2 separate regions of the Homo sapiens genome follow, and region 2 is linked to region 1. The links come from fine-mapping of genetic effects on gene expression. A gene starts in region 1. The other region holds a variant in brackets. All regions are shown on one strand. Distances are from middle to middle. Region 1 holds the start of DRAP1 (DR1 associated protein 1). Region 2 overlaps TSGA10IP (testis specific 10 interacting protein).

Region 1 (5,362 bases):
GTTGGGATTACAGGCGTGAGCCACCGCACCCGGCCCCAGCTCCCAGTTTCATGTGGGGAAGGCAGGTGGGTGGATGGGATGGCAACCATGACGTCCTGCGCAGAGCCTGGAACAGACACTGAGATTCCCTTTTATTTTTTTTTTTAATAAATTTAAGAACAGCTCTACCTTCTCTCCTCCCCCCAGAGCAACTAAAACCAACTAAAAGGGGCTATGGTCTGGGGGGCAGAAGGCGCTAGGAGTCGTAATCTTCTTCGTCCTCTTCATCAGGTGCTGAGGGGCCCGGGGGCGCTGGGGGCAAAGGCAGAGTAGAGGCGAAGGGCAGGAAGGGTGTCGGGGGGCTGCAGGGCAGAAGGCAGGAGAGAGTCAGGCCTGAGCCCCACCGTGCCCTCCACAGGGGCAGCTGCCAAGACCCTCCCTCCCCCATCTGACCCTCCCACCACCACCCTCCAGATCCATGCGGCCAAGGCCCAGGGCAGCTCACGCAGGGCAGGCCCAGGCCCCACCCACGGGCCCTGGCAGGGTGGAGCAGGATCTTTCGGGAGAACAGTCTCCTGCCTTCAAGCCCTCCTCAGTTATTCTCCTTCCACCCCACAAATCTGCCACAATCAACAAGACCAAGGGGCCAGGGAGAACAAGAGGGGTAAGTTGGCTCTGGGGAGTCTGCCAGCACCCTCCCATGCCTCTGGGCTGCTCACCTCTGAAAGTGGGCAGAGGGGTGGCTGGCCTGGGGTGGGGGTTGTGATGTCTCCTCTTCCCCATCAGTATCTGTGTCCTCAGATTCATCCTGTGAGCACCGCAGAGGTCAGAGTTGACAAGAAAAGACACGAACCCATCACTGGGAGTGGCAGGGACAGCAGTAGACCCTCATAGCCCCAATTTACAAATAAACCAGTGAGCAAACAGGTTGCAGAAAAGGATGAGAGCTGGCCTCCTGCCAGTTCAGCCTGGGGCGAGGCTGCCTGTCCCATCACCAAGGGCAGGGCGAAGGGCTGGGGCCTCACTCACCTCCTGCTCCGAGTCTGTCCCGGACAGCTTCTTGTCCTTGCTTTTCGTTCCCATCCCACCGTTCTTCCGGCCGCCGCTGCCTGGCTTCCGGCCCCTTTGGGAAGGTACAGTCCATCTGCCCGGAGTGCTCCCTACTCCTTGGCCACCCCCAAGCCCTGTGGCCTTGGCCTTCCCCACTGTATGCCAGGCCCTGGCCCCACCTGCGGGCGCCCTTGTCCCCATCCATGTGGTTGTCTTCCCCGTCCCCCTGCATGTCGGGAACAGATGCCACCAGGTCCTTCAAGAAGTCAAACTGCTGCTCCAGCTCGATGCACTGCTTCCTGGAAGAGGTGAGGAGGGGCTGGCACTCAAGAGGGGCCCAGACACCCAAACCCGCAGTGGGTGGCAGCAAGGGGCCCCAGATGTCAGGCTGGAGCCCGGGCCGATCTCCGCTCCCGGGCCTGCCCTGCTTTACTCAGGTGGCTCCCTCTGCCTGGAAGCCCAGCCTCTCCTCTGCCAGTCTGTGGCCTTGCTGGTGTCCCGGCTGCCGCCCACCTCCCTCGCCACCCAGGCTCTGCCTTCCTCAGTGTGTGAACTCCCCGCGCCAAACCCGCCGGCCCCTCCCGGCTCCTCGCCGCTCACAGGTGGGATGTGGTCATGGTCTTCGCGTTCCGCGACTGGGTCACCTGGCAGGCCTTCTTCAACAGCGACTCTAGGAAGAGCTCGAGCGCCCGGGCTGAGGAGCGTCAAGGAGAACTCCGGGGCAGGAGAGGGCGACCCGCTGCCTCCCTCCCCCACGCCCCTCGACCCGGTCCGCCCCCGGCAGGATACAGATGATGACAGGCACCGCCGCCGCCACCTTCCCAATCTCTTCGTCCGTCTGCATGATCTTCTTGATCCGCGCCTGCGGGTGGGGGAGCAGAGTTCAGACCCCGTCGCCACCGTCCCCTAAGGGGGTGCTGGGGGAGGAAGGGGCATCCCCGGAGAAAGGGGGCGGGGGACACGGACGCGGGGAGGGCATGGAGGGGGCGGGGCGTCCAGGCCCCCGAACACCGCGGCGCGCCCGCCTGCCCAGCGGGAACTGGGCCCAAGCCACCCGGGAGCCGGGCCCACTCCTGCCGGGCTCTGCCACGTGCTCACCGGCGGGAACCGCGCGTTGTACTTCTTCTTCTTGCTCGGCATCTCGGGGCCTCTCTCGCCGCGTCGGGTCCAGCGCCGCCGCCCGCAGCCTCCCGGCTCCCGGGCCTGCTCGCCGCCCGCCCGTCGCGGTTCCCCTGGGTCCTGGTGCCGCCCGCTCCGCCCCCGCCGTTTCCCGCGGAGTCCTAGCGCCGCCGGTTAAGACGCCGCTCGCAGGGCCCTAGTGCCCTCCTCTTGAAGCCTCCTGGCCGGTGCGCGTCCCTCCCCAGTCTGGACCGCCGCTCCCGCCCGCCCCCAAGGCCAGAAGAGCGAACGTTGGCCCCGCCCCCCGCGGCCCGCCCCTCCCGGGGTTCCCGCGATGGCCCCGCCCCCGAGTCAGCACCTCCCCGTCGGCCCCGCCCCTTCCCCTGCCGGCCCCGCCCCACAGCGCGGCCGCTGCGGCCGCTGAGGCCCGCGGCTCCGCCCTGTGGCTGCGCCTGTCTATAAAGTTGTTGTTGAGGTGGCGCGGCGCTAAGATGGCGGCGGCGGCGGCGGCGGCCGTGGCGGGGGTGGGGCGCGGTGGCGGTGGCGCGGAGCCACGGCAGGAGCGGAGCCGGGCCCGGGGCTGGGCCGGCGTCGAACGCAGCGAAGGCCGGAGGTGACTGCGGGCGGCGGGAGGGGCAGGGCAGGGCCGGGGCGGGAGCACAGCTCGGGCCCGTGGGCGTTAATGGCGGCGGGCGCGGCACGGCCGGAGCCTGGCTCTCCTGCAGGCTCTAACAAGCCCTGGTTCGAGTCTGGGAACCGCCCCATTGGCCTCGGAACGGCCTGTAACCTCTCTGGACTTCAGCGTCCTCGTCTGTAAGTGGGCCCGATAACGCCTGCCTGGGAGGCCTGGCCTTACAGAGCCGGCCTCGGGAGCTGCGCGAACGTGCGCTTCTTTGCGTTCCTCTATTAAATGCCAGCGCACCGGATACCTGCCAGGAAAAGGGGGCCTTGGCAGGGCCGGGAGGTGTAGCTGGGGCTGGTTGCTCCCACGCCTGGATTCACCCTTCGGCCCTGCCACGCACTGCAGGTGTGACCTTGGGCAAGTCCTTTTTCTCAGCCTCAGTTTCCTTTTCTGTAAGTCAAGGAGAATAGTAATAACTGCAGCAACCCTTCTGGAGCGCTGACTCCTCAGGCATCTAATTTTCATAGCAGATCTACGGGACAGGAACAGTTGTTATCCCATTGTAAAGATGAGGCAACTGAGGCGCATCGACAGTAACTCTTACTCAAGGCCACAGTTTAATCCAGTGCCTGGCATCTGTAGTTATTGTCTCAGACCCTGCCCTGACTCGGTTCCCTCACAGCAGGATGGAACCAGGTGAGGAGCTGGAAGAGGAGGGCTCTCCAGGTGGCCGTGAGGATGGCTTCACCGCCGAGCACCTGGCTGCAGAGGCCATGGCAGCTGACATGGACCCCTGGCTAGTGTTTGATGCCCGCACAACGCCTGCCACTGAGCTGGATGCCTGGCTGGCCAAGTACCCACCATCCCAAGTTACCCGCTATGGGGACCCCGGTTCACCCAACTCAGAGCCTGTGGGCTGGATTGCAGTGTATGGGCAGGGCTACAGCCCCAACTCCGGGGACGTGCAGGGCCTGCAGGCAGCCTGGGAAGCTCTGCAGACCAGTGGGCGGCCCATCACACCGGGTACCCTGCGCCAGCTCGCCATCACCCACCACGTGCTCTCGGGCAAGTGGCTTATGCATCTGGCACCGGGCTTCAAGCTGGACCACGCCTGGGCTGGCATTGCCCGGGCCGTGGTTGAAGGCCAGCTTCAGGTGGCCAAGGTGAGCCCACGTGCCAAGGAGGGTGGGCGCCAGGTCATCTGTGTTTACACGGACGACTTCACGGACCGCTTGGGTGTACTGGAGGCGGATTCAGCCATCCGTGCAGCGGGCATTAAGTGCCTGCTCACCTACAAGCCTGATGTCTACACCTACCTGGGCATCTACCGGGCCAATCGCTGGCACCTCTGCCCCACTCTCTATGAGAGCCGTTTCCAGCTTGGGGGTAGTGCCCGTGGCTCCCGAGTGCTTGACCGTGCCAACAACGTGGAACTGACCTAGGGGGGCCAAATTGGGGAGACTGCCCACTCCCCCCTCCATGCTGGGGTTGGATCCTCCTGTCTTCCTCCTTGTCCTATGAAGGCCACACCCCCCAGCTCTGGGGACTCCTAGGTCACTTGGGAACTACCTGCATCTTCAGTCCCCTTGAACTTCTGCCCTCTGTTCAGGGCTGACACAAGCCCCACAGGCTGGGGGGCTCCGGTTCCCTGAGGGATGAGCCTTCAGCCTCCCTTTGTAATGCTGCTCCTCTCCACTGCCCAGCACCATGAGTTGGGTGCAGACACCTAGAAGGAGAGACTTCTTGGAACGCTCATCCCCCGCTATACCTCCCCTTCCTCCTGCATCTCCCCTTCTTTCCTTCCCCCTCAGGAGAGAGAAAACTTAGTGCTTCCAGCCCTTCTTGGAGCCTTCATGGTCCAGGGGTAGGGGCCCCACTGGCCTGAGCATGCCATTTTGAGGGGAGGGTAGTTGTGCCTACTTATCCCCTGGCAGAGGGGATGCCAGGACCATGGACATGAGGCTTGCCCATCCCTGCCAACTTACACAGCCTGTACCACTGTCCCCCCTTCCTTGGCTACTTTGACATGTGCCTGCTCCTGGCATTTCAATAAAACCCGGCTTGGGTCTGTGTCTTGAGTGTTTTTTAAAATACTGTCTTGGTGGTTACCTGCTTTCGTTGCTAGGGAGGGGCAGGGCCAGGAGAGACTACCCCCTTGACCCGGCCAGGCCCCCATAGCTGCCCCTAGCAATAAGTTGTGCCTCACTGCTGAGGTTAGGCACTGTCTCTAAGAACCTCTGCAAAACCAGCCCCACTTCCCCTCCATCCGTAATCAGTTTCTCAGAGATTTCCCATAATTCCAGGGGTTGACCCCTCCAGGAACGTCTAAGGGGCCACTGCTAGCCCTCAGGGTGCATTTGTGCATATTAGAGAAAGGTACCAAGTCCAAGCAGTCCTAGGCCGGGGTACGCGGTTTGGGGAGCAGAGGATGGGATGGGCTGGATTTCAGCACCTTAGGCTAGACATCCTTGTGCAGTGAACAACCTGCACAACCCTAGGTAGTCTCTCTGGAAGCCCTGCCATTCATACTCTCCTCTCCTACCACCCTGACCATCATAGGGCCCACTAGACAGTTTGCAAAGCGCTTTCATA
Region 2 (5,362 bases), 36 kb before region 1:
ACAGAGCAAGACCCTGTCTCAAAAAACCCAAAACCCAGTTTGTGCACTTGTCAGAAATGTGTCTGTTTGACAAACTTGAGTATCACTGCCACTCATGAAGAGAGCACTCTAGCAGCAAGAGGGACCTTCGAGCCACACCCACATGGGACCAGGCATCCATCTGTGAAGCATGTAAGAGAGGCCTTGAGGTGTGGAGGCAGCACCCATGGACAGGAGGGGAGGGAAGACGCAGACAAGAGGACAGGAGGGGAGGGGAGACACAGACAAGACCCCAAGACCTGTACTGGGACCTCAGCGATTGTGCTGGGCCCGGTGGAAAAACTCAGCCTTGCTGGGCCATGCCACCCTTGCTGTGGCCCTGTGCCAGGGAAGGAACCATCCTTCATTGAGAAAAAGACATGGACTTGAAAACCCATGGCCCGGAACACAAGTTACTGCAAAAACGGCTTTCACCATTTAGGAAGGAATTTATGGCAGTTACAAGGGGAGGTGGGAAATGAGCTGGCAGTCCCTATCTTTTCTGTGATATTGTGTGCACTTTTCCTGCTGGATACTTTATGCTATTTCTGTTAGAAGTGACAGGAGCTGGCCGAGGCGGGCAGATCTCGAGGTCAGGAGATCGAGACCATCCTGGCCAACATGGTGAAACCCTGTCTCTACTAAAAATACAAAAGTTAGCTGGGAGTGGTGGCGTGCGCCTGTAATCCCAGCTACTTGGGAGGCTGAGGCAGGAGAATCGTCTGAACTGGGGAGTTGGAGGTTATGGTGAGGCGAGATTGCACCACTGTACTCCAGCCTGGCGACAGAGCGAGACTTTGTCTCAAAAAAACAATGACAGGAGCCCTGAGCAGAAAGGGAAGTGGTGCCTATGGGTGTCAGCCCCGTCCATCATCTCAGAATGGAAGGAGACACATCCCTCCCTCCCACAGGACAACCTCTTTTGTGCCTGCCCTTCCTAGGCAGGACAGAGTCTCCTGTTCCGCTCAGACAGCGAAGTTCATAGGCTGTAATGGCTGAGAGACTGCATGGGAGATACCTACTTATGCCTTAGCCCTCTCAAATAGAAAGTAAAAGGAGTGAGGTTGAATCACTCTTTTTGCTGCACCTGCCACTTGGAGTTCTGAACCTTACACTTCCTGCCTCACTGTGAAAACAAAACACTTGGCTGGGCGCGGTGGCTCACGCCTGTAATCCCAAAACTCTGGGAGGCCGAGGCAGCCAGATCACTTGAGGTCAGGAGTCTGAGACAGCTGGGGCAATATGGTGAAACCCTGTCTCTACCAAAAATACAAAAAAATTAGCCAGGTGTGGTGGCGCGCACCTGTGGTCCCAGCTACTCAGGTTGCTGAGGCAGGAGAATTGCTTGAGCCCGGGAGATGGAGGTTTCAGTGAACTGAGATCACACCACTGCACTCCAGCCTGGGCAACAGAGCAAGATTGGGAAGGAGAAAGGATCCCCCTAAACATTGGCCCAAGCAGTCCCCCAAAACACACTTGACCTTTCAGAGCCTCTGTTTCCAAATCTGTAAAATTGGGGTGATTAAGACTGAGCCTCGGCCGGGCGCGGTGGCTCACGCCTGTAATCCTAGCACTTTGGGAGGCTGAGGCGGGCGGATCAGCTGAGGTCGGGAGTTCAAGACCAGCCTGACCAACATGGAGAAACCCTGTCTGTACTAAAAATACAAAATTAGCCGGGCGTGGAGGCGCATGCCTGTAATCCCAGCTACTCGGAAGGCTGAGGCAGGAGAATTGCTTGAACCCGGGAGGCAGAGGTTGCGGTGAGCCGAGATCGCGCCATTGCACTCCAGCTTGGGCAACAAGAGCGAAACTCTGTCTCAAAAAAAAAAAAAAAAAAAGACTGAGCCTCAAAGAGTAGGTGATAAGAACCCCGCTGAGCCGTCAGTGGCCTTAAGGCAGGGCAGGACCCTCACCCCACTTGCCACGGACCAAAGGAGACAGGGTGCAGAAAAAGATGCCCTGCGCCCGCTGCACCCAGGAGGTGCTCAAATCAATGGCACTGGTTTTGGTCATATTTATTTGATTTATTTGTGTTACATGTGTCATTGGTTTGGGCTCTTGGGGGAAGGTCCTGGTGCCTTTCGTCTAAAAGCGGAGGATTTGAGTGCTCAGGCAGGGCAGCATCGTGGCTGGAACCCAATTCTGCTGCCCATGCATGACCTTTGACAAATTATTGAAGATCTCTGAGCCTCAGGTTCCTCACCGGTGGGGTTATGCAGGTGGAGATACCAAGGTAGGATAGTAAGGTGAGCGGGCCGTACTGACTTTTCCCCTTGTATGAAGCCCCAGGGGCTCCTTTCGCAGGAGCTCTGCAGCCCCTGTGCCCTCGTGCATCAGCACCTAACTCTTTTTTTTTTTTTTGAAACGGAGTCTTTCTCTGTCACCCAGGCTGGAGTGCAATGGTGCAGTCTCGGCTCACTGCAACCTCCGCCTCCCGGGTTCAAGTGATTCTCCCGCCTCAGCCTCCCAAGTAGCTGGGACTACAGTCGCGCGCCACTACGCCCAGCTAATTTTTGTATATATATTTTTTAGTATAGACGGGGTTTCATTACGTTGGCCAGGCTGGTCTCGAAATCCTGACCTCAGGTGATCCACTT[A/G]CCTCGGCTTCCCAAAGTGTTGGGATTACAGGTGTGAGCCACGGCGTACAGCCGAGTACCTAACTCTTTTGCAAGATAAGCAGTCTTAGGGGATACCAGATGGCTACAAGTTCCCTCATACCTAGCACAGCCCAGGAAAAAAAAAACAAAAGCCCCTTATTCATAATGTAGCTTCCCCGATCTCCAGCCAATCAGCACCAAAAGCCCAAGAAGCTATTAGCTACAAATTCCTGCCTTGGAGGGAGCTAAGGACTTCTCGGGGTTCCGCATACACAGCTAGGCTCAAGGTTTAGCTTATAGCAACATTTTCCTCGTTTTGATGGTAAAAAAACACACCCCTAGGTAGAGATTGTATATGCTAATGTTACATGTGATGCGTGTTGGAGCATGCAGATGCTGAGCGCATGCGCCCACCACAGGTCCACCTTTGCATACCTGACCTCACCAGTATTTTGTGACTAGGTATAAACAACTTCCATAAAAGGAATTCCTCTTAAGGCACAAGCTGCCGTCTCTCCCTCTGAGCAGTCCTCAGGGTGGGCTTTTTTTTTTTTTTTTGAGATGGAGTTTTTGCTCTGTCGCCCAGGCTGGAGTGTAGTGGCTCAATTTCGGCTCACTGCAACCTCCATCTCCCGGGTTCAAGCAATTCTCCTGCCTCAGCCTCCCGAATAGCTAGGATTACAGGTATGTGCCACCGCACCTGGCTACTTTTTGTATTTTTAGTAGAGATGAGGTTTCACCATGTTGGTCAGGGTGGCCTTTGCTTTGCAATAAACTTTTTCTTTTGTGCGGCCAAGGGAAGAACCTGACCTGGCCCACCAGCAGCAATACTCCCTGCTTCACGGACCTGTTAGGAGTCCAAAAACGTTTGCCCACAAATCTGCTTATTAGGAAAATGGTCACGGCCAGGTGCAGTGTCTCACACCTGTAATCCCAGCACTTTGGGAGGCTGAGGCGGGTGGATCACGAGGTCAGGAGATCGAGACTATCCTGGCTAACACGGTGAAACCCCGTCTCTACTAAAAATACAAAAAAAAAAAAAAATTAGCCGGGCGTGGTGGCGGGCGCCTGTAGTCTCAGCTACTCGGGAGACTGAGGCAGGAGAATGGCGTGAAGCTGGGAGGCGGAGATTGCAGTGAGCCGAGATCGCGCCACTGCACTCCAGCCTGGGCGACAGAGCGAGACTCCGTCTCAAAAAAAAAAAAAAAGGAAAATGGTCACAATATAGGAAGAGAACAAAACGCGACTCTTCAGCTGACTGTGAACAATGGTTGTCTCCCAGAGTGGGGTCACACGGCTGTTCACCTTCTCCAGGCATTATTTCTGTAATCTTTGAAATTTTATAACAAGCATGTCTGGCATTGGAAATCAGAAAATGAAGATTTGAAAGTGTGATCATACATGTAGAATATTTTAACCTTGACCATTCAACAGCTGCAGAGATTGTCATTATTAACTGGGTGGCCTTCGACAGACCCCTTCTCCCCATGCCTCAGCGTCCTTATCTGGAAACGCGGTGAAGTGGCCTGGTTAGCCCCAGGGAAGGCGAGGGCTGGTGCTCCTCGGTCCTGTAGACTGAGACCTGACACGGCCTCCCTGCCCTCTCCCAACCAGGCCTCCCGAAGCCCAGGCTCCCTACCTCAGCTCCTCCAGCTTGCGCTGGGCCGCCCCAGGGCCCCGGCTCCCTCTGGGTGCGTAGGCTGCCAGGCAGTGGGCCACCTGCCGCTGTACATGCTGTGTCCGGGCCCGCCGCAGCTCGGCCTGCTGCCGCTCCTCCTGCCGCTGCCGCTCCCAGGCCTGCAGCAGGCTCCTTGGGTGAGAAAGGGAAGGGGAATGAGAGGTTCACGGGCAGCAGGAGCCTCACGGAGGGCCAGGGGCTGGATAAGGGAATATGGAAGCCTGTGGGGAGGGGCTGCAGTGTCCAGAGCCAGTGTCCTGGGAGTAGGGTTTGTCATGGAAGTCCATGACAGAGACTGCCCTGGAGGCTCAGCCCTCGGTCCCAGCTCAAGGCCTTTCCCTACTCTTTCTAGAAGTCTCCTGCTTCCAGGCCAGGCACGGTGGTTCATGCCTGTAATCCCAGCACTTTGGGAGGTGGAGGCAGGCGGATCACCTGAGGTCAGGAGTTTGAGACCAGCTTGGTCATCATGGTGAAACCCTGTTTCTACTAAAAATGCCAAAATTAGCCAGGCGTGGTGGCATATGCCTGTAATCCCAGCCACTCAGTAGGCTGAGGTGGGAGAATTGTTTGAACCAGGGAAGCAGAGGTTGTAGTGAGCCGAGACCACGCCATTGTACTCCAGCCTGGGCAACAAGAGCAAAACTCCATCTCAAAAAAAAAAAAAAAAAGAAAGAAAGAAAAAAGAAATGAAGGGTGCTTTGGAAGAATTAATATTGTTAAAATGTCCATATTATCCAAAGCAATTTACAGATTCAATGCAAGCCTATCAAAATTCCAATGACATTTTTCACAGAAATAGAAAAAACAATTTTAAATTAATATAGAACCACAAAATACTCCAAACAGCAAAAGCAATCTTGAGCCAAAAAAAAAGGCCAGGCATGGTGGCTCACACCTGTAACCCCAGCACTTTGGGGCTGATGCAGGTGGATCGCTTGAGCCCAGGAGTTTGAGACCAGCTTGAGCAACATGGTATATATACACAATGGTATATATTGTGTATATATTGTGTATAAAAGGTGGTCTATATATACAATGGCATTCTTCAGCCTTAAACCCCATCTGTACT

What was found. PIP is the estimated chance that this variant, and not a neighbour inherited with it, causes the effect.
Region 2: its variant is fine-mapped to the expression of DRAP1 in whole blood (TOPMed, PIP above 0.99).

Annotation. Positions count from the first base shown.
Region 1 is chr11:65,916,309-65,921,670 of GRCh38, reverse strand. It overlaps DRAP1 (DR1 associated protein 1), which reads right to left and starts at 2,245. Exons shown (of 7, transcript NM_006442.4): 1 at 2,128-2,245; 2 at 1,819-1,891; 3 at 1,630-1,723; 4 at 1,209-1,328; 5 at 1,009-1,102; 6 at 699-787; 7 at 108-341. The coding sequence starts at 2,169. The coding sequence ends at 236. C11orf68 (chromosome 11 open reading frame 68) reads left to right here and starts at 2,609. Exons shown (of 2, transcript NM_001135635.2): 1 at 2,609-2,761; 2 at 3,453-4,861. The coding sequence starts at 2,640. The coding sequence ends at 4,212. RefSeq lists enhancers at 1,652-2,572, 2,573-3,492, 5,052-5,362, 5,212-5,362 and a silencer at 1,786-2,855.
Region 2 is chr11:65,952,630-65,957,991 of GRCh38, reverse strand. It overlaps TSGA10IP (testis specific 10 interacting protein), which reads right to left. Exons shown (of 8, transcript NM_152762.3): 5 at 4,255-4,425. Among named protein-coding and RNA genes, the nearest start is that of SART1, 6.4 kb to the left of the region's middle. The variant A/G (reference allele first, on the strand shown) is at 2,616.